Linked DNA regions of Homo sapiens: region 1 is linked to region 2. The links come from fine-mapping of genetic effects on gene expression. A gene starts in region 2. The other region holds a variant in brackets. All regions are shown on one strand. Distances are from middle to middle. Region 1 holds the start of LOC124901091 (a long non-coding RNA gene). Region 2 holds the start of PCDHGA2 (protocadherin gamma subfamily A, 2).

Region 1 (9,847 bases), 180 kb after region 2:
AGGACTCCATCTTAAAAAAAAAAAAAAAAAAATGCTGTTTTGAAATGGAGGCTTGGAAGAGCACTCTTCACCCCCACCCCACACACTTACTAACGGAACTACCGAATCTCTACTCGTGCCAGGCCTTGCTTGGCAAAGGCTAGGGGCATGTAAAGCCATGGTTTCATGGCTGCTGCCCTCCAGGAGCCCATGGTCTAGTGTGGGAGTCAGAGGCTCCCTTGAGAAAGCCAGGGCAAGGAACTGAGAGCCCGTGTCACAGCCCTGAGAGAAATACCAGCGAATGTGTTTTGAGCACTTACATCTACCAGGCACTATTTTACGTACCTGACATACATTTTCTTATTTAGCATTCACTAAAACCAGAAGAGGTGGTTACCATTATCATCCCCATTTTGCAGATGAGAAAACTGAAGTGGCATAAGGAGGTTAGGTAGACTTGCCCAGGATCACAGTGAGTAAGGAAAGGAGCTAGGAATCAAACCTAGACTTTCTCACTCCAGAGCCTCTTAACCTCTACCCTCAACTCTTGTGAAGAGAGACTACCTTGGTGACCCCTATATTCCCAGTGCTCAGCGTGGTCAAGGCCCAGGGTGCTGTATAGGCATTCATTAACTGCTGGGGATATAAGACAGTGACTGTTGAGGACCCTAAGTTTAGCTCCCACCTGATCTTCCTCTGTCTCTGCAGAAGCTGCTGATGGGAGCTCCACCCTGGGAGGGGGTGCCGGCACCATGGGATTGAGCGCCCGCTACGGACCCCAGTTCACCCTGCAGCACGTGCCCGACTACCGCCAGAATGTCTACATCCCAGGCAGCAATGCCACACTGACCAACGCAGCTGGCAAGCGGGATGGCAAGGCCCCAGCAGGTGGCAATGGCAACAAGAAGAAGTCGGGCAAGAAGGAGAAGAAGTAACATGGAGGCCAGGCCAAGAGCCACAGGGCGGCCTCTCCCCAACCAGCCCAGCTTCTCCTTACCTGCACCCAGGCCTCAGAGTTTCAGGGCTAACCCCCAGAATACTGGTAGGGGCCAAGGCCATGCTCCCCTTGGGAAACAGAAACAAGTGCCCAGTCAGCACCTACCCCTTCCCCCCCAGGGGGTTGAATATGCAAAAGCAGTTCCGCTGGGAACCCCCATCCAATCAACTGCTGTACCCATGGGGGTAGTGGGGTTACTGTAGACACCAAGAACCATTTGCCACACCCCGTTTAGTTACAGCTGAACTCCTCCATCTTCCAAATCAATCAGGCCCATCCATCCCATGCCTCCCTCCTCCCCACCCCACTCCAACAGTTCCTCTTTCCCGAGTAAGGTGGTTGGGGTGTTGAAGTACCAAGTAACCTACAAGCCTCCTAGTTCTGAAAAGTTGGAAGGGCATCATGACCTCTTGGCCTCTCCTTTGATTCTCAATCTTCCCCCAAAGCATGGTTTGGTGCCAGCCCCTTCACCTCCTTCCAGAGCCCAAGATCAATGCTCAAGTTTTGGAGGACATGATCACCATCCCCATGGTACTGATGCTTGCTGGATTTAGGGAGGGCATTTTGCTACCAAGCCTCTTCCCAACGCCCTGGGGACCAGTCTTCTGTTTTGTTTTTCATTGTTTGACGTTTCCACTGCATGCCTTGACTTCCCCCACCTCCTCCTCAAACAAGAGACTCCACTGCATGTTCCAAGACAGTATGGGGTGGTAAGATAAGGAAGGGAAGTGTGTGGATGTGGATGGTGGGGGCATGGACAAAGCTTGACACATCAAGTTATCAAGGCCTTGGAGGAGGCTCTGTATGTCCTCAGGGGACTGACAACATCCTCCAGATTCCAGCCATAAACCAATAACTAGGCTGGACCCTTCCCACTACATAATAGGGCTCAGCCCAGGCAGCCAGCTTTGGGCTGAGCTAACAGGACCAATGGATTAAACTGGCATTTCAGTCCAAGGAAGCTCGAAGCAGGTTTAGGACCAGGTCCCCTTGAGAGGTCAGAGGGGCCTCTGTGGGTGCTGGGTACTCCAGAGGTGCCACTGGTGGAAGGGTCAGCGGAGCCCCAGCAGGAAGGGTGGGCCAGCCAGGCCATTCTTAGTCCCTGGGTTGGGGAGGCAGGGAGCTAGGGCAGGGACCAAATGAACAGAAAGTCTCAGCCCAGGATGGGGCTTCTTCAACAGGGCCCCTGCCCTCCTGAAGCCTCAGTCCTTCACCTTGCCAGGTGCCGTTTCTCTTCCGTGAAGGCCACTGCCCAGGTCCCCAGTGCGCCCCCTAGTGGCCATAGCCTGGTTAAAGTTCCCCAGTGCCTCCTTGTGCATAGACCTTCTTCTCCCACCCCCTTCTGCCCCTGGGTCCCCGGCCATCCAGCGGGGCTGCCAGAGAACCCCAGACCTGCCCTTACAGTAGTGTAGCGCCCCCTCCCTCTTTCGGCTGGTGTAGAATAGCCAGTAGTGTAGTGCGGTGTGCTTTTACGTGATGGCGGGTGGGCAGCGGGCGGCGGGCTCCGCGCAGCCGTCTGTCCTTGATCTGCCCGCGGCGGCCCGTGTTGTGTTTTGTGCTGTGTCCACGCGCTAAGGCGACCCCCTCCCCCGTACTGACTTCTCCTATAAGCGCTTCTCTTCGCATAGTCACGTAGCTCCCACCCCACCCTCTTCCTGTGTCTCACGCAAGTTTTATACTCTAATATTTATATGGCTTTTTTTCTTCGACAAAAAAATAATAAAACGTTTCTTCTGAAAAGCTGAACGTTTCTGTATAAGCGATGGAAGCTCCTGGCATGTGTGCATGAAGTGATGAGCTGAGGTGGGTGCTGGAAGAAGGGCGGAATCGGGAGGCCACTTTGTGTCATTGCGCGTCTAGATGTTTCCGAATTGCGTGTGTGTGTGTGACTGTGCAATATGGTTGTGTATGCTTGCAATGCCGTTGTGCCTATGAGACAGTGTGCGATTGTGTGCCTATGGATCTGTGTACCGTGTGCCATTGTGTGATCGGTCCGCTGTGGGGGTGGGGATCTGAGTGCGGCGTGTCAGTGTGCAGTGGAGTGTGCAGTCTAAGCTTGCGGCTGTCTCCAGGCAGAAGAGGAGACCCCGGCGCGGGCGGGGGCGGGTTGGCGCCGGGCAAACGCCTTGGGTAGAGGGGAGAGGACGTTTCGTTAGTTCCCGCCCCTTCCTGACTAAAATTGCCTACCCGAAGCGCCCCGGAGGGCTTCACGGGAGGAGGGTAGACTCTCCTTTGCCCCCGCACCCCCACCCCCGCTGCCTAGGGGTTTTGGGAAAGCCGCGGGAGTGGGAGGGAATGCGGGAGGTGATTCTTCCAAAGCCAAGTCTGCAGCTCGAGCCTCAGTTTCCCCATCTGGAATTCGCCTTCCCGCTGACATCTCCGTAGCGAAGCCTAAGAAATTGGAGGGCTCATCCTCTTCTTGCGGGGGTCAAGGGGACTGAAAGGACGTGCAGGAAATGAGATCCATCGCAGACTCAGCTCCCCTCCCTCCTTCCTGTCGGTGCTTTTCCACTCACTCGCCTGCTCTCCCATCTCCCCGCCCCCTCCGCCTGCCTCCTCGAAGCACTGTGGGATTCCGAGGTTGCTGCAGCCAGAGAAGCTGCAGAAAAACACGGAGCTGGGGGTGAAGGGGGACTTAAAAGGGGAACTACCCGGAAGGACCCAAGAACACAAAGACAGAGCCACTGCGGTTATCTGGCTGGTCAGCAAGGGTATGCGGCTTCCTCCGCGCTGCGGAGGCTCCCAGAGCCAGGTCACCCATTCTGCCAGCTCAAGTCTGTTGTCATGGGAACCAAACCTTCCAACTTAAGAATCTGGGGGCGACTTTCTAGCGTGGGAGGAAGGGTGGTGTGCACGGTTGCTGAGATGGAAGCAGGGTTTTGTTACTCAGAGCCAGGCTGCGGAGGGGCGGGGTGCCGGGCGCCTGGGTTCTATTCCAGGCACAGCAGCAGACTGGCAGAGCGCGTGAGCAGCTGTGGTTTGTCCCCTAATTGGTATGTGTGCCTATAAAGCTCTGAACCAGAAAGGCGTGGCCTCCGGGGGGACGGGAGGGAGGCGGCAGGCAACCCATCCCCACACCTCAGGCCATACTGAGGAGGCAGCTGCCCAGGCTCCAGGGCTATTTAAAAGGCTTTTATTTCCAGTTCCAGAGCCCGCCCGAATGGGTTTGTGGTCCTCTCCAGGCCTCTCCCTGTCTATCCTGGGCCTGCTCATTGCTGGTCTGGCTTTTTTGTGCAGGTCATAACGTGCTCAGACAAGTATGGCTCCAAGTGGCAAGTCATCTGGAGCATGACCTCAGGCTCCCAACCTCTGCTGGGCAGGCTCAGGTTTCCACCCCAGGGTAAACCCCTCTACTCTGGAATGTGGTCTGTGGCCACCAACAGAGCAGAGGGGATGAGAAAATGGGAGCCAGATGCTTCCCTCAGCAAGAGACACAGGTACTGCCAGGAAACCTTGCGTGACATCTGGGAACATGAAAGGTTCCAAGTGAGTTCCAAAAAAGGGCTCCAAACCAAGTAGCAGCAATGTGGAAGAGTCAGGGAGCTGAACCAGGCGCCCACTCCTTTACTGTGGCCAAACGGCCCTGAGGTGAGCTCTGGTGGGGCAGCAGCCACCATGTATTAATCATCTCTAGCCCTGTGCCCAAGTAAAGTGTCTGGCACCTTTAGCTTTTTCACAGTGATTTGTCAGGTCAACCAGGGATTTGAGGCAGGAAAGACTAGAGGAGCCTGGACTAGAGTGAAAAGAAAACAGCTCAGAAATTCACACAGGAAGCTGTAAGGCAGTACTGTTTCAATGCTTTATTAACAGTTGGAAACAAAACCAACAAACTGGAGGTGATGACATCCCAGAAGCCTATGAGGCAAGGGAAATAGGTTTGCATTTTGTCCCTCACACCTCTCTCTCTCTCTCTTTTTTTTTATTAAATGCATCTTAGCAAAAGTAGATTAAAAAAGAAAGGGTCAAAGCCCCAGATGTCAGCGAGCAGGGAGGAGGTGACCCAGGGGAGCAACAGACGCCCTGCATCAGAGTCCTCCCAGGAATAGTCCAAAGGAGCTGCTCTTGCCCCTTTATACACAAGCGCCAGCAACCAAAACCCTCCCTCCTGGCAATAAGGCCTCACTATAGTTGCCCTCATGCTTCCTAAGCTCTCTCTTGCTCTAATAACTCTAATTCTGGGCCAAGCCCAAGAGTGCCATTCTTTCTTCCTAGCTGGGGATGGAAAGCTGAGAGGGGCACAAGGAGGGCAAAAGTATCACCCTAAGCCA[G/C]AGAATTGCAGCTTCCTGTGGTTGGGGCCACCAAACAGTTCAGTGTGCCCACCCACTTCTCTTTTAGAAGAGAGCTGGGGTACAGTGTATGAAGGCACTCCTGGTGCCCAGTTCCCCAGAATGTCCAGTTAGCATCTGCACATTTGGCTTGATACATTTATACATTTATAAAAAACTCTGTGGTCTTAGAGTTCCTGCTACTCTTAGGCCTGGCCCAGCTCAACCAGAGAAGGGGTTCCTCCTGTGTCGGATTCCCTGGGAGAGAGGATCTGCCTTGGACTCAAGGGTCCAGAAGGTCCAGGGGCACATTCAGGATTGGGCCTGTGAGAAGAAATCCCAGAACTCTGTAACCTGCCACCAAAGCTTCTTACATTATGGAGGGGAAAGGGGGAAGGAACAGTTTTCTTTAAAAAAATTTTTTTTTTCATACAAAAATAGATCCATTTGCAAAACAATTTCTCAGCCAGGAGGCTCCACCTCCCATTTCCTTGTAGACAGAGGGTGAGGTGTTGGGATGGTCACAGTACAACCCATAGTCCAGATGAGATGCACCAAAGCTCAGGGAAGGCATGAGGAGGGAAGGTGGCTCAGTAGCCTGGGGTTGGTGCAGAGCGTCCAGAGAGGCAAGGGCATAAAGCGTGGCAGAAGCTGGGGGCAGGTCCCACACTGTCGCTATGCCCTGCCTGCCTGCCCACAGGCTCTGGCCTGGGCCACAGCACAGCAGGGAAACTGGTCCAGATCCTTTGCTTTGGAGGCCTTTCCCAGGAAGGTGGGGTAAAGGTGGGATTTGCTCCCTGCTTCCTTAGGAGCAGCTCCCAGTGCCACACCACTAATAATAAATAACCACAGCCAGGAGAGGGAAGAGCAGAGACAACAGCAATGAAAGGAGGGATCTAGCCCAAAGGTTTACAAGCCCCATGCTATTCTCAGGGCCAGAGAAACCACAAAAGAAAAGCACAAATCCAGCAAGACTGACCTAGGGGGGAAAGCCCATTAGAAAGTCAGGGCTGAGAAAAAGCAGGCTGGGCCTTGTCTGAGATGAGGCCCTCTGAGTAACAGAGAGGAGACAGGGTTAAGGCAGCAAACATGGACCCTGCTTTGGTAATACAACAGCCAGGGCTGGCTAAGTCGGGCTCAGGCCTCCCCTGCACTGCCCTTTCCTTCTGGCCTCCAGGCAGCTGAAGCTGTATGTGATGTTGAGAGAGCAGCAGGCCAGAGAGAAAGACAGGGTCAGGGTGGTGGGAGTGGCCACCCCAGAGGAATATCCCCTTGAGCCTTTAGGCACATGCTGCAGGGCAGGACAGTCTGCGGCTCCGCTGAGGAGCTGCCGCGGTCACAGGACCCACATTAGCTTGCACGGCCAACCAACTCCTTGGCTTCCTCAAGGATTGTGGGGAATGTCTCACTGTTCTTGGACACCTTGGCAGGAACAGCAGCCATGGCATCATCCTTGGTCAGCTCCGAAGCTAGCAGAGATGTGACTGCACACCCGGCCTTCCTGTTGGCTGCAAGAGAAGACGAGAGATTCTGTCTATGGAAGGCCTCATTTCTAATTTCTTTCAAACTCTACAGCAGATAATCAGCGTAAGCCATGCAGACATGACTACCTTGGCCACTTCACAGAGGCCCTTACTTTGAAGAAAGGGGCAGAGATCCAGCATGTGGAATATATTGTTGGGTGGCAAAGAATGTAAGAGAGTGTGGTGCAACAGGAAAGCAAGCCTTGCCCCCTTGCTTCCCTGTGTGAAAACAGCACAAAAGTTTGAACACAGACAGACAGAACTGGGCTGAAGTGTTAGCTATGTGACTTAAGGAGAGATGAAGTATTCAAAGTCTATTTTCTCGTAATAGGGATGTTGGAATTAAATAGACTAAAGTTTAGTACATAGTATTATTTTTGTTTTCTTGACAGGTCCCAGGAAACTCCTAGGCCAAAACACTTCTCAGTCAGCCCTGGGAGGGTTGTCCCTAGCAGAAGGCAACCTTCCGTAAGTGGCTGGAGAGACTCCCGCAAAGAGGAACAGCAGCCACGCACTGACACCGCACTCCCACGTGTTCCTCCAACAACAGATGCCCACATGCCTTAGCTCTTTCCCACCCCTTCAAAGGTAGCAGCCGTAATACAAATGCCAAGGGCCCTACAAGGTGTGTAGAGTATGTGGGGGTGGCATGGCGGGGGGGAGGTAGTAATAAAAACTATGCCAGGGAAGCAGAACTGGGATAAAGATGGACAGGAGAGGACCCCTACCAAGAAATCTCAGCCCAGGTGGCTAAGAGATGGTCAAGTTCCGGCTGTCATACCAGATTAGAAAAGAAGAACCAAATCAATCCACGAGTTTCTGTTCTAACTGCTGGGTTTCATCCCCAAGACTCTCATATTCATTTATGGTATCTAGGCTTATGGCCCCAGTATCTGCAGCAGGAAGGCCACTCCTTGAGACCATGCCCATCTCATGATGTTTCCTCCTCCCATGCCCCAGAACAGCACAGAGCAACTGTGTATACACAAACAGCTGTCTGGGACGAAAGAAGCCTGACACGAAAGGCCATATGTTATGGGTCAGCTTCTGCGAAATGTCCAGCACAGGCAAACCCAGAGATAGAAAATAGACTGGTGGTTGCCAGAGGCAAGGGGAGGGGAGAATCAGTAGTGACTGCTAATGGGGATTATGAAGTTTTTCTTCTGGGGATGATGAAACGTCCTGGAATTAGATAGTAATGGTTATACAATCTTGTGGATATTCTAAAACCCCTGAATTATACATTTTTAAAAGGTGAATTTTAGGTATGTAAATGATAGCTCAATTGGAAAAAAAAAAAAAAAAAAAAGACTTCCTGGAGATCTGGGAAAGCTGGAGTGGAGAAAGCAGTACCGGAATGTTTTAGAAGCAGGACCAGATGAAAGAGCCGAGCACTCCTAAATAAAGACCAAGACTGGGGCAGCTGCATGACTGGAATGAAGCGCCTTTTTGGACCAGCAAAAAGCTTTAGGTAGGCAGAAGCCAAACAGGATCAGATAGCCCGTCTTTTTTTTTTTTTTTTTGATGGAATCTCAGTCGCCCAGGCTGGAGTGCAGCAGCGCAATCACAGCTCACCGTAGCCTCAACCTCCCAGGCTCAAGTGATCCACCCACCTCAGCCTCCCTAGTAGCTGGGACTATAAGCATGTGCCACCATATCTGGCTATTTTTGTATTTTTTTGCAGAGATGGGGTCTCTCCATGTTGTCTAGGCTGGTCTTGAACTCCTGGGCTCAAGCAATCCTCCCACCTTGGAACCTAAAGTTCTGGGATTACAAGCATGAGTCACCACAGCCTGCCAAAGCCCAAGTCTTAACCAGGTCTTCTCTCCCTGCAGAGCCATGACCCAGAGCTACTGTTTTCATCCCAGGAGAGGCTGCCCATAGATCAAGCAGGGAACACGCAGCATGCACACAGGTTACCAATTTAAAGGTCTCCTCCTCCTCCTCTACTTCCCAGGGGCACAAGAGGTTGTCTACCAAGAGGAGAAAGAATAGTGAAGACCCTGACTGACAGCCACAGGACTTATCTAGTTACAGATCATAGGTATGTGCCCGAGACTGTGGGATTTTCACAAAACCATTTATTGGATTATGAACATAAACTAATGCCCCGTGACTGAGACAAGTGAGGAAAAGGAGCCTACGTGAGTGTGACTATGATGGTCTACATGTGTGCATTTCTCATACTGTCCTTACCACCAAAATCTTCCTCAGGCCTCCTACATTTCCACTCTCTTCTGAAGTACTCCCTCTCTAGACCCCATTTCTCATATCCAGAAGGGTAGTAGTTTCCTATCATTTTATTATTTCTTTGAATTCAGTCTCCAACAGTTGAGAAGACACTGCGACTCTGTGCATGTGTGTGTGTGTGTGTAACTCTAGTGGTATATATATGTTGAAATAACATCTGACTCCAGACCTTGGGAAAAGAACACTGGGCCACTTGTCCTGGGCAACACAGGAGAAGGCAGAGGTCCCATGTGGTAGGTCTTTAGCTGCTGCTTTCTGTGGTTTCTTCCTCCAAAATAAGAAGATACCAGTTGTACCTAACCAAGTGGTGTTTCTAGACTTTTCTGGACTCAAGAAGCTTCTGATGTATTACAAACTTCATAAGAACCAGGAGCAGAGAGTAGGTAGGGAGAAGATCAAAATTTCCCTTTTAAGCCTTGAAAGCCTATACACCAGGGAGGGTGTGATTTGGCCTAAGGTCAGGGGATGAGAAAGCTCTTGTTGGAACAGGTCTCCCAGCTTTCCACTCACTCACCATTATGCTCAGCAGGTTGAACAGTCAAGAAAAACTGACCTCCCCATGCTTCCCCCAACTTACTCACTTGTTATTAGACTATTGAAAAGTAGCCATAGAACCAGATAAATATTTTGACTACAAGAGAACAGTCCCACAGGCTGTGTGGGAAAAGGGAACAATGTTGAGATACTGGTGAATGCTCTCTGAGGACAGATTCCTAGAAGTTAGGGGTGGGCTAGGATAAAAACACCAGCAAAATCAACCATATAACGCAAGTTTTAAAAAGGTTAGTGATTTGAAAAAAGACCTTTATAAAACGTAGGCTAGGAACTATTAC
Region 2 (12,464 bases):
CTCACATTTCACTACTAGTGACAGATATCAATGACAACTCCCCAGTCTTCCATCAGGACTCCTACTCTGCCTACATTCCCGAAAACAACCCCAGAGGAGCCTCCATCTTCTCTGTGAGGGCCCACGACTTGGACAGCAATGAGAATGCACAAATCACTTACTCCCTAATAGAGGACACTATCCAGGGGGCACCCCTATCTGCCTACCTCTCCATCAACTCCGACACTGGGGTCCTGTATGCGCTGCGATCCTTCGACTATGAGCAGTTCCGGGACATGCAACTGAAAGTGATGGCGCGGGACAGTGGGGATCCGCCCCTCAGCAGCAACGTGTCTCTCAGCCTATTCCTGCTGGACCAGAACGACAACGCGCCCGAGATCCTGTACCCCGCCCTCCCCACAGATGGTTCTACCGGCGTGGAGCTGGCGCCCCTCTCCGCAGAGCCCGGCTACCTGGTGACCAAGGTGGTGGCGGTGGACAGAGACTCGGGCCAGAACGCCTGGCTGTCCTACCGCCTGCTCAAGGCCAGCGAGCCGGGACTCTTCTCGGTGGGTCTGCACACGGGCGAGGTGCGCACGGCGCGAGCCCTGCTGGACAGAGACGCGCTCAAGCAGAGTCTCGTGGTGGCCGTCCAGGACCACGGCCAGCCCCCGCTCTCCGCCACTGTCACGCTCACCGTGGCCGTGGCCGACAGGATCTCCGACATCCTGGCCGACCTGGGCAGCCTCGAGCCCTCCGCCAAACCCAACGATTCGGACCTCACTCTGTACCTGGTGGTGGCGGCGGCCGCGGTCTCCTGCGTCTTCCTGGCCTTCGTCATCGTGCTGCTGGCGCACAGGCTGCGGCGCTGGCACAAGTCACGTCTGCTACAGGCTTCGGGAGGCGGCTTAGCGAGCATGCCCGGTTCGCACTTTGTGGGCGTGGACGGGGTTCGGGCTTTCCTGCAGACCTATTCCCACGAGGTCTCCCTCACTGCGGACTCGCGGAAGAGCCACCTGATTTTCCCCCAGCCCAACTATGCGGACACACTCATCAGCCAGGAGAGCTGTGAGAAAAAGGGTTTTCTATCAGCACCCCAGTCTTTACTTGAAGACAAAAAGGAACCATTTTCTCAGGTAAACTTTTGTGATGAATGTATCAGCTATCTAGAGAAAAATAATTCTTGATTTAACTTACTAGCGTTCGCTCTTTGCTACAGATAGTTCTTCTAACCCATGTATCTTTGTAGCTTTTTATTACAAGTCCTGCAAAATCACGATTGAGTCTACACGTTCATATGCAGGTATATTTATAATTGTTCTTGCACTGAAAAGGAGACTGTGATCATAATGTAGGTGGTTGGGTTGAAGGTATGTGTGAGATGCCATCTCTGTTTGGAAAGAGCACTGCATTAGAAACGGCGATCTAGCTTCTAACATTTTCTTACTTGCCTCTGGGCTAAAAGGTTTGATTAGAAAAGGCTCACCAATATTTAAATGACTAACACTATTTTCAAATTTTCTTTTTATAAGTACCTGCTAATCTACCCCTGAATTTAATGTAGATGTCATCTGTCAGGACACTGTGATAGTTTATTTGGGGACATTTGAAGAGGTGAAGATTGTCTAAAGTAGTATTTTTAGTTGTGTTCATATAAGATTATAGAGATCTATATAAACTGCAATTTTAAATTATTGTTGAATATTTTAGCCTTTTATTCTATCTTTATTATCAGATTTTTTTGGTTTTGAGATGGGGTCATGCTAGAGTGCAGTGGCATGATCATGGCTCACTGCAGCCACTACCTCCTGGGCTCAAGCGATCCTCCCACCTCAGCCTCTCAAAGTGCTGATATTACAGGTGTGAGCTGTGGTGCCTGTACTGAAGAATACGTCTATTTAAGTAATGTATGAAGTAACAAAATGAACAACACAAAATTTATCATGCAACTTGAGAAATATCTTTGAAGCCTCCTGACTTATACATTATACCTGTAATGAAATCAGCTAACAAAAATCAAGTATATATCCTATTTTAATGTGTGTTAACTTTTCAGAAGAAAAAAAAAGTATGGTCGGGGAGTAAGTCCATGCTTTGATGTATTTACTCTGCTCCAATAAAATACAGAGATACATAAAATATAAGAGGAAAGCAAAAGCAAAGTGGTGAGCTAGTCTAAAGCCATGTGAGTTATAGTCTTGGACTTAAAAGCAGAAATTGAAGGTTAGGAAACTGCCTCCAGCAATGTAATAGGGACAGAAGTGCTTCAGACTAGATAAATATCTGGACCAGGCTTACTGCCTGAATCCAAAATAAGCAATGAGGCCCTTCAGCTGGTTAAAAAGGAAAAGAAAGATGCATTAACATGCTGCCTAGCTGGGCGCAGTGGCTCACGTCTGTATTTCCAACAATTTGAGAGGCTGAGGCGGAAAGATCCTTGGAGCCCTGGAGTTCAAGACCAGCCGGACAGGGCGGCCTGCGACTGTAGTCCCAGCTACGCGGGGCGGGGAGGGGCGGGGCGGGGCGGGGCAGGAGCTGACGTGGGAGGATCCCTTGAGCCCAGGAAGTCAAGGCTTCAGCGAACCGTGATCGCGCCACTGCCCTCCAGCCTGGGCGACAGAGCCACACCCTGTTAAATAAATAAATATAATAATAAAAGCTGTTTCCCAATTCCGGTGGTTATAACTTTCTTCGTAAGCTGTGTAGACCAAGAGAGAGAGACAGACACGGATGCTGGATAGAGACAGCGAACACCAAGTATCTCATATGTGAGCTGTGGTATCCAGAATATCACTGCTGTGCATCATTAAAGCGTCATTAAGAGACCTAGTTATGGCCTGGGACCTGAGGTCAGATAGAAACTATTTCAAAACCATTACAAATGAGCACTGAACCCAGGAGGGAAGGAGAGAGGGATATAGTGTAGAAGAGAAAAAAACAAACTAAAACTAAAAACAAACAGAGCTCTTCCACTAAAAATAAATATACAAACCAAAATTTCAAAACACACTTGTCTCGTAGAATTTATTGTTACTAGTGAGAAACTTTCTGTCAACACACTGTTATTTTTTAAGGTAATCTCTGTTTTCTCTCTGGTAACTATTGAAGACTTTCTCTCATTCTTGCTGTGTGTCTGTTGCATTTTTATTTTTATTTTTTGCTTGGTACCAAGAGTATACTCTCAATTGATAACTAAGTTATCTCACTTCTGGACTTTCTCAGCTCTTATAATCATAATTTTTTTTCTGTGTATATACAAGTGAGCTACATTTACCTATTAAAGGACAAATATTACAAAACTGGTTGATTTTTAAAATCCATATTCTAATAATACACGTGCTTAAAATAAAAATACACTGAAACAGTGAAACTAAATATATATGTACACACACAAAAAAGAAAGTCATGTTAATGTAACAACAAAGTCATATTTAAGGTAACAAACACAAATTGTGATTTTAAAAAATGAACTGATTATAGTTGTAAAAAGAGCAGATGATCAAAAGGATATAAAAATATAAGCTTCTATTACTGAAAAATATAGCTTAGAAAATACCGGAATATTTAAACATAATTCCATAAGAAATAATAGACCCCACAGGAAGAAAGTTAGTTAACATAAAGAAGATTTGAACAACATAATTTAGAAGCTTGATCTATTAGGATTCTAATAGATCCGTTCTGCACACAACAAATATGGAATAGTCATCCTTGAACAAGCAGACAATCTACAAGTTTATTACCTAGTCATTACAAAAAAGGGTTCAGCAAATTGCAAAGTACCAATAATATACTTGCCTTACAACACATACTTAATCACAAAGCAAACATTTAAAAATAGAAAAGGGAAAAAGTTTGGATATTTACATCTACACCCTTAAATAACTCTTGGATTTCAAAAATCACAATGACAATGAAAACTACTCAGAAAAAAAGGACTTAAATATTCTTTATTAAAAATTGTGAGATGCAACTAAAACTAATTAGGAGTAAGTTTATAGACAAATGCAATAATTTTTTTAAAAGCAAACAAAATTATTTAAAATACATGAATTTAGCTTGCCATTCAAGAAGTAAGATAAAAAACATACAATGAGTATATACTAAAATAAAATGATGGAAAAAATAACAAAGAGTTACATTTTTGAAATGCAACCATGGAAGAGTTCTGAGGATGAAATAATGGAAGCAGACAATAAATGTAATAAAACCAGTGGGGAGAAAATGAAAATTCTGTCAAGTCTAACGTTAGGACTCATGTAAGAGAGCCAGGCACAATGGCACACCTATAATCCCAGGTACTGAGTAGGCTGAGGCAGTAGGATTGCTTGAGCCCAGGAGTTTGAATCCAGCCGGGGCAGTATAACAAGACCCAATCTCTATAAAACAAAAAAACACAAACACAAACACAAAAATAAAAATAAAAAACAAAAGCAAAATATACCATAGTAGCTCTACAAGAAAACATGGTGAGTTGGTATCAATTATTTCCAATATATTTTTCTTCAGTCTTGTAAGAGGAATGGATGAAAGTAAAAATGAGAAAATTTCAATAAGGAAGGAGCCAAAAGGCAAACAGATTAAAGTGTCACCAGAAATGGGCAATTCCACTTATGCCACATACAAAAATTAATTCAAAATGGATCAAAGAAGCAATATTCAGAAGCAATAAAACCCTTTTAGTTATTATGTTTAAGAACTAAAACTATACAACTCTTAGAAGAAAACAGGAGGAAACCTTCATAACATTGATTTTTGGCAATGATTTCTTGGATATGACACCAAAAGCACAAGCAACAAAAGAAAAAAATTGTATACTGGACTTTATCACAGTTAAAAACTATATGCAGCAAAGAACAATATCAATAGAGTGAAAAGGCAGCCCACAGAAAGAGAGAAAATGTTTCCAAATCATGTATCTGAGAATGGATATCCAGAATAAAGAACTCGAACTCAACAACAAAGAATCCCAAACAATTGGATGTTAAAATGAGCAAAGGACTTGAATAGACATTTCTCCAAAGATGATATACAAATGGCCAAAACCATATGAAACAATGTTCAACATCACTAGTCATTAGGGAAATGCAAATCAAAACCATAATGAGATACTACTCCACATTCATTAGAATTGCTGTCATAAAAGAAAAGAAAAGAAATGTTAACAAGAATATGGAGAAATTGGAATTCTTGTGCATTGCTGGTGAATATAAAATGACACAACTGCTGTGGAAAATGGTATGGTGACTCCTCAAAAATTTAAACATAGAATTACCATATAATCCAGCAATTCCACTCTGGTTATTACCCAAAAGAAGTGAAAATAGGGACTTCAACAGATATTTGTACACCTATGTTTATGGCATCATTAGTCACAATAGTTGAAAAGTGGAAGTAACCCAAGTGTCCATTGACAGATGAATGGGTAAATAAAAAGTGGTTCACACATACAATGGGCTGTTATTTAGCCTTAAAAAGGAAGGGAATTCTGTTACATGCTACAATATGGACGAACTTCAAAGACATGATATCAAGTGAAATAAACCTGTTATAAAATGACAAATACTGTATGATTCCTCATATATGAAGTTCCTAGATTAGTCAAATTCATAGAGAAAAAAGGTAGAATGGTAGTTGCCAGGGACTGGGTGAAAGGCAATGGGGAGTTGCTATTTAATAAGTACAGAGTTTCAGTTGGGGAGGATGAAAAAGTTCTGGAAGTGGATGGTGGTAATGGTCACACCAGAATGTAATTTGAATGTACTTAATGTCACAGAATTGTATGCTTGACTATGGTCAAAATGGTAAAGATGAAACAAGAGTAAGAAGACATCCACTGCATTGTATTTTACACCCTTGGAAAATGAATATCAGAAAAAGAACTTGACAACCTCAAACAATTTTGAGTGACTGATTCCTAGTGTGGTGAAAAACCCCTTCCGGCTCTAGCTTTATCAAATAGACCTGCTTTCTGTTTCTGTAATGTTCCATGCTGTCTCTTACCTTCAAGCATTTGTTCAGAGGTTCTAGAACACTTCTTCAGCCTTTTTCTTGATTCAATCCTACTTTTTATGATTCAGCTTCAATCATGCCCTCAAAAAGACTTTTCTGACCCCAAATCTAGACTGGATACCCCTCCTAGGTATTCCTCCATCACCCAGTGTTTCCTACCTCATATCACAGCAGTTACCATACTCTATTATACTCTCTTTACTTTCTTATGTCCTCCTCCAACCTTCACGCTTGAGACCAGGGCCTGTGTTTATCATGTTCACCATTTCTAGCTCCAGCTGCAATCATGCAAAGTGGGAGGCACATGTACCCAATTAAGTGTCTGATGATTCAATAATTTAAAGGCAGATTTTGAAGGTAAATGCAAAGCCATCAACCATAAACGTTCAAAATATATAACCTTAGAAGAAAACGTAGCTAACGTTTCTTAATTGATCTTACTGCTTCTGATTATACAATAAGAGATGGAAGATGTTTGGAGCAAGGGCAGTGGTGGCATTGATTAATGCCTTGAGCAGTCAATAATACTTTCCTAGCAACTATTATCAAGATCATGTTCATTTATACCATTCTTATTAATCCTGATAAAAAGATTCCTGTTTTGAAAGATCTAATTCTAGGGTATCTTAGAGCTGTAAGATTCTTTAAAGCGCCTTGAAAGTCAACAAAGGCAAACAAACAAGAAGTAACTTAGGTTTTCCTGAGCAGGTGCAGAAATTATTTAGGCCTCTGAGCGTCGCTGTTGACCACCTAAGGAGTAAAAGGCAGCGAGACATCCAATCCAGCAATACGGCTCCCACAGCACAAGGGGGTGGAGGTTTGGCCCTAAAGCTTCAGGACACCAAAGAAATTCAGTCGAACAGCCCACCAGTTCTCTCCATAGGGACCTGGGTCCCGTGAATGCTGGTTATCTCACACCCTGAGGAATAAAGATTGGAATCCGCACTGGATGCTGGAAGTTGACTCGGAGAAAATTGCGACAGGAGGGAAATGGCGGCTCTGCAAAAGTTGCCACACTGCAGAAAGCTGGTCCTGCTGTGCTTCCTTTTGGCGACCCTGTGGGAGGCCAGGGCCGGGCAGATTCGCTATTCTGTGCGGGAAGAGATCGACAGAGGCTCCTTCGTAGGCAACATCGCCAAGGACTTGGGTTTGGAGCCCCTGGCACTGGCAGAGCAGGGAGTCCGCATCGTCTCCAGAGGTAGGTCCCAGCTCTTTGCTCTGAACCCGCGAAGCGGCAGCTTGGTCACTGCGAACAGGATAGACCGGGAGGAGCTCTGCGCTCAGAGCGCACCCTGTCTGTTGAATTTTAACATTCTGCTGGAGGATAAATTGACTATTTATTCAGTAGAGGTGGAAATAACAGATATTAACGATAATGCCCCTCGCTTTGGAGTAGAGGAACTGGAGCTAAAAATCAGTGAAACCACTACGCCAGGATTCCGGATTCCTCTTAAGAATGCGCATGATGCAGACGTAGGTGAGAACGCCCTTCAGAAGTACGCACTCAACCCAAATGACCACTTCTCCCTGGACGTGCGAAGGGGAGCTGATGGGAACAAGTACCCAGAACTGGTGCTGGAGCGCTCTCTGGACCGCGAGGAAGAGGCTGTTCACCACCTCGTTCTCGTGGCTTCTGATGGGGGTGACCCAGTGCTATCTGGCACCTCCCGCATCTGCGTGAAGGTCCTGGATGCGAACGACAATGCGCCTGTTTTTACACAGCCCGAGTACCGCATAAGCATTCCGGAGAATACGCTCGTGGGCACCCGGATACTCACGGTGACCGCCACTGACGCAGATGAGGGCTACTACGCTCAAGTGGTATATTTTCTAGAGAAAAGCCCTGGAGAAACCTCAGAGGTATTTGAGCTTAAGTCAACATCTGGAGAACTGACAATCATAAAAGATCTAGATTATGAGGATGCTACATTCCATGAAATTGATATTGAAGCTCAGGATGGTCCGGGCCTTCTAACCAGAGCGAAGGTTATCGTCACGGTTCTGGATGTGAATGACAATGCCCCAGAATTTTACATGACATCTGCTACTAGCTCAGTTTCTGAAGACTCTCTTCCAGGAACCATAATTGGGCTTTTTAATGTACATGATAGAGACTCTGGGCAGAACGCATTCACCACCTGTTCACTCCCCGAGGATCTTCCTTTTAAGTTAGAAAAGTCAGTAGACAATTACTACCGACTGGTTACAACCAGAGCCCTTGACAGGGAACAGTTTTCCTTTTACAACATCACTCTAACCGCTAAAGATGGAGGGAACCCCTCCCTGTCCACGGATGCTCACATTTTGCTCCAGGTGGCAGACATCAACGACAACGCACCCGCCTTCTCCCGCACATCCTACTCCACCTACATTCCCGAAAACAACCCCAGAGGAGCCTCTGTCTTCTCAGTGACGGCCCATGACCCCGACAGCAACGACAATGCTCATGTAACTTACTCTTTCGCGGAGGACACTGTTCAGGGGGCACCCTTATCCTCTTACATCTCTATCAACTCCGACACTGGAGTACTCTATGCACTGCGCTCCTTTGATTATGAGCAGTTGCGAGACTTGCAAGTGTGGGTGATAGCGCGGGACAGCGGGAACCCTCCACTCAGTAGCAATGTATCATTAAGCCTGTTCGTGCTGGACCAGAACGACAACGCGCCCGAGATCCTGTACCCTGCCTTCCCCACAGACGGTTCCACTGGCGTGGAGCTGGCGCCCCGCTCCGCAGAGCCCGGCTACCTGGTGACCAAGGTGGTGGCGGTGGACAGAGACTCGGGCCAGAACGCCTGGCTGTCTTACCACCTGCTCAAGGCCAGCGAGCCGGGACTCTTCTCGGTGGGTCTGCACACGGGCGAGGTGCGCACGGCGCGAGCCCTGCTGGACAGAGACGCGCTCAAGCAGAGCCTCGTGGTGGCCATCCAGGACCACGGCCAGCCCCCTCTCTCCGCCACTGTCACGCTCACCGTGGCCGTGGCCGACAGGATCCCCGACATCCTGGCCGACCTGGGCAGCCTCGAGCCCTCCGCCATACCCAACGATTCGGACCTCACTCTGTACCTGGTGGTGGCGGTGGCCGCGGTCTCCTGCGTCTTCCTGGCCTTCGTCATCGTGTTGCTGGCGCACAGGCTGCGGCGCTGGCACAAGTCACGCCTGCTGCAGGCTTCAGGAGGCAGCTTGACAGGCATGCAGAGCTCGCACTTTGTGGGCGTGGACGGGGTTCGGGCTTTCCTGCAGACCTATTCCCACGAGGTCTCCCTCACTGCGGACTCGCGGAAGAGCCACCTGATTTTCCCCCAGCCCAACTATGCGGACACGCTCATCAGCCAGGAGAGCTGTGAGAAAAAGGATTTTTTATCAGCGCCTCAATCTCTACTCGAAGAAGAAAGAGAAGAAACGTTTTCTCAGGTAATCTATCTTTTCACAACATACGTACTAGCTAGTTTGCTGAAGTAATTCACTTACTTGTTTACTATATCTATTTTGTTCCCCATATTTCCTTGAGGGTAGAGTCAAGTTTTAGGAAGTGAGTCTTGGTGAATTATTTCTTGGTAGGTCTTAGTGTTCACAGGCTGTAAGAGGAAGAAGAGACGTGAGAATCTTTGTGCAATGAATGTAAACCAGGAGTTAATAGATAAGATTATCCAAAGAGCACTGCATTAGGAACTAGGGTGTCTGGTTTCTTATACTTTCTTCTCCATCCCTGGGCAAATCATCTCATCCACCCAGATCAACAATTTTTTCTTTGTTAAAAATATAAAGATTGGAGTTTATGTTTACTCAAGTCCTTTCTTCTTTTAAGTTATGACTCTTACTCTATATTTGAATCTGTATATGAACAGTGAAACATGTTAGTTGGCTAGTTCTTTCTCATTCAGTCTTAATACATTTCTTTCAGTTTGGCAGCAAAATTGTTTTCCTTAACTTGCATGCCCTTCCCTGTTAAAAATATGGAAATTTAGAAATATACATTCCTTACAGTGTTTCAGGAAGGTATGTCATATTATTTTGGCTTAGTTTTAAAAATCACATTAACCTCTAAGCTATATGCTTCTTGAAGAAGTGACTGACTTATCATCTGCTCTATAATAAAGCTGTAGAGTGGTAATAAACAGGTTTCTCCTTTTTTTTTATCTTTCTCATACGTGGGAACCATACTGTATTTTAATCTTTAAAATAATATATATCCTCAATATAGTTTTGCTTAAAGAAAAGATACAAAAGATTCATATCATACAATTGCCCAGAACCAACTTCTTTATACATCTCTCTTCTCAAGGTTTCTACTCACAATAGCTGCTAGAAATGTTCCCAATCCCTCACCCAATCCCAGTGCCCCTCTGATCAATTTTCTTTTCCCATTCCTCTTCCTATATTGGCTTTTAGTATGTTGGTTATGTATTTAATAACAGAGAATAATAAGCACACTAATGTTCTATGTAACTGGCATCATTTTTTATTTTTATTTGAAAATTATCATGTACCAATTGAGCCTTTTATTGAATGATACCATATTTCTCAAAGTGCTGTGATTCTTTCCGTTGCATTTGATCAAGAAAAAATTTTCTGAGACAAGGTGTTGTTTTGGTTACTATTACATAATTGTCTATGAGTAAAATTGGAACTCACTGTGGAATAATATGTCATAATAGCTTTACTTGTAAGTGAATAATAAAGTATAAACAGGAAAATTAAAGCAAAGTTATTTTTAGTGTGTGTAGTAACTCCACAAGAATAAATGTCTTATGCATAGATATGTAATGCATCATGATTGAAACGACAAATATATTGTATTTATATTTCTGTGCTTGGAAACTTATGGGGAAAGAGATTCTGGAACATAAAAGCTTATTTCTACTAGTTTCAGTTGGTTTTGAAAAAACATCCTTACAGTCTAGATTTAAACAAAGGAAACTTCTTTCAGTACCCTGAAGGTCTGTGATTTCTCTCTCACACCTAGGCATTGTCATGCTGTTCTCTCCCACATCCAGGCCTTTTCACTGATCCACTCCTCTCATGTTTCCTGGGAAAGCGTTTGCTAACATTAAAGGCCCAATTGAAGGCCCCCCTAACCCCCTTGGCTTCTCCCATTATGGTAATTATCTCAGTACACTGCAATTCCCTGTTTGCTTTTATATCCTTATAATCTCTGTGAAGGAAGCTACTGTGTCTATATTGTTCACCTTAAATCCCCAAACATATTGTCTGATGCCTAATTATGTGTTTGTTTAATGAATATTAAATAACAACAAATATCGAAACTAAGTTATCAGGTCACCAAGAACAAACTTAAAGAAATATAATGTATAAATATGGCTGATTTCTGTGTGTTTCTTTTCTTTTTTTCCTTGTCTCAGCTCTTAGAGAGTTAAGAGTATAGAGAGGGAAAGGTCAAAGAGGAGGTGGATATCTTATCAAATAACCCTGATAAATGTAGTAAGTATAAGAATAAACACATTATCAAGGTTCAGTGGTGGAAGAACAAGTGGTGGTCATGTCTTTTAATAGTTGTGTTGGTCCTTACGGCCAGTTCTTTGTTACTGTGTGTTTCTTAAACTGAACAATTCAAAAAAGTTAACTCCACTATGTTTGAAGCAATATTGGTGGCATTAAGGTTAGTGCATGGATTCCCAAGAAAGATAACTTGAGGTGACACTGTTTAACATATATCGATTCAATTATGTTCAATCAACACTAGTCCTCTTATCTCTGACAAGAAGGATTTCAGATCTTGGATAATTCAAAAATAATAATGTGTCTGAGAGGATGCAGTAAACGGTTAGGCCTCTTAGTGTCGCTGTTGACCACTCAAGAAGGAGAACGCAGCTGGAGAACTAGTCCACCATTTCCTTGCTCCTAAAATGCAAAGAACCAGCAAATCAGACTCAGAAGATCCGGGGCGGCTGCCAACCTCACCTCTTAGTCAACCAGCTGTTTGACCTGTGAATTAGGCCCGTAAAAGACTTCGTTTCTTGAGAAAATAAGATTGGAGTCCGTCGTAGGAAACTGGAACCGAATTCAGAGAAAGCGATTCACCGAAAAGGAAATGACCAATTGCCTGAGTTTCCGAAATGGCAGAGGACTGGCCCTGCTGTGCGCGCTCCTGGGGACGCTGTGCGAAACAGGATCCGGTCAGATCCGCTACTCGGTGTCTGAGGAGCTAGATAAAGGTTCCTTCGTGGGCAACATCGCTAACGACCTGGGGCTAGAGCCCCGGGAGCTGGCGGAGCGCGGAGTCCGCATCGTCTCCAGAGGTAGGACGCAGCTTTTCTCTCTGAATCCGCAAAGCGGCAGCTTGGTCACCGCGGAGAGGATAGACCGGGAGGAGCTCTGCGCTCAGATCCCGCTGTGTCTGGTAAAAATTAACATTCTGGTTGAGGATAAATTGAAAATTTTTGAAGTAGAAATAGAAATTAAAGATATTAATGATAATGCTCCTAATTTCCCAACAGAGGAATTGGAAATAA

The links.
Region 1: its variant is fine-mapped to the expression of PCDHGA2 in blood mononuclear cells (TOPMed, PIP 0.92).

What each region holds. Positions count from the first base shown.
Region 1 is chr5:141,510,260-141,520,106 of GRCh38, forward strand. PCDHGA1 (protocadherin gamma subfamily A, 1) reads left to right here. Exons shown (of 4, transcript NM_018912.3): 4 at 688-2,716. The coding sequence ends at 914. PCDHGA2 (protocadherin gamma subfamily A, 2) reads left to right here. Exons shown (of 4, transcript NM_018915.4): 4 at 688-2,716. The coding sequence ends at 914. It overlaps PCDHGA3 (protocadherin gamma subfamily A, 3), which reads left to right. Exons shown (of 4, transcript NM_018916.4): 4 at 688-2,716. The coding sequence ends at 914. It overlaps PCDHGB1 (protocadherin gamma subfamily B, 1), which reads left to right. Exons shown (of 4, transcript NM_018922.3): 4 at 688-2,716. The coding sequence ends at 914. It also overlaps PCDHGA4, PCDHGB2, PCDHGA5, PCDHGB3, PCDHGA6 and PCDHGA7, and 15 more genes. RefSeq lists enhancers at 3,275-3,900, 3,446-3,565, 3,901-4,526, 4,306-4,555, 4,527-5,152 and 4 more. The variant G/C (reference allele first, on the strand shown) is at 5,245.
Region 2 is chr5:141,331,991-141,344,454 of GRCh38, forward strand. It overlaps PCDHGA2 (protocadherin gamma subfamily A, 2), which reads left to right and starts at 6,770. Exons shown (of 4, transcript NM_018915.4): 1 at 6,770-9,405. The coding sequence starts at 6,982. PCDHGA1 (protocadherin gamma subfamily A, 1) reads left to right here. Exons shown (of 4, transcript NM_018912.3): 1 at 1-1,115. PCDHGA3 (protocadherin gamma subfamily A, 3) reads left to right here and starts at 11,839. Exons shown (of 4, transcript NM_018916.4): 1 at 11,839-12,464. The coding sequence starts at 12,044. It also overlaps PCDHG@. RefSeq lists a silencer at 1,680-1,909.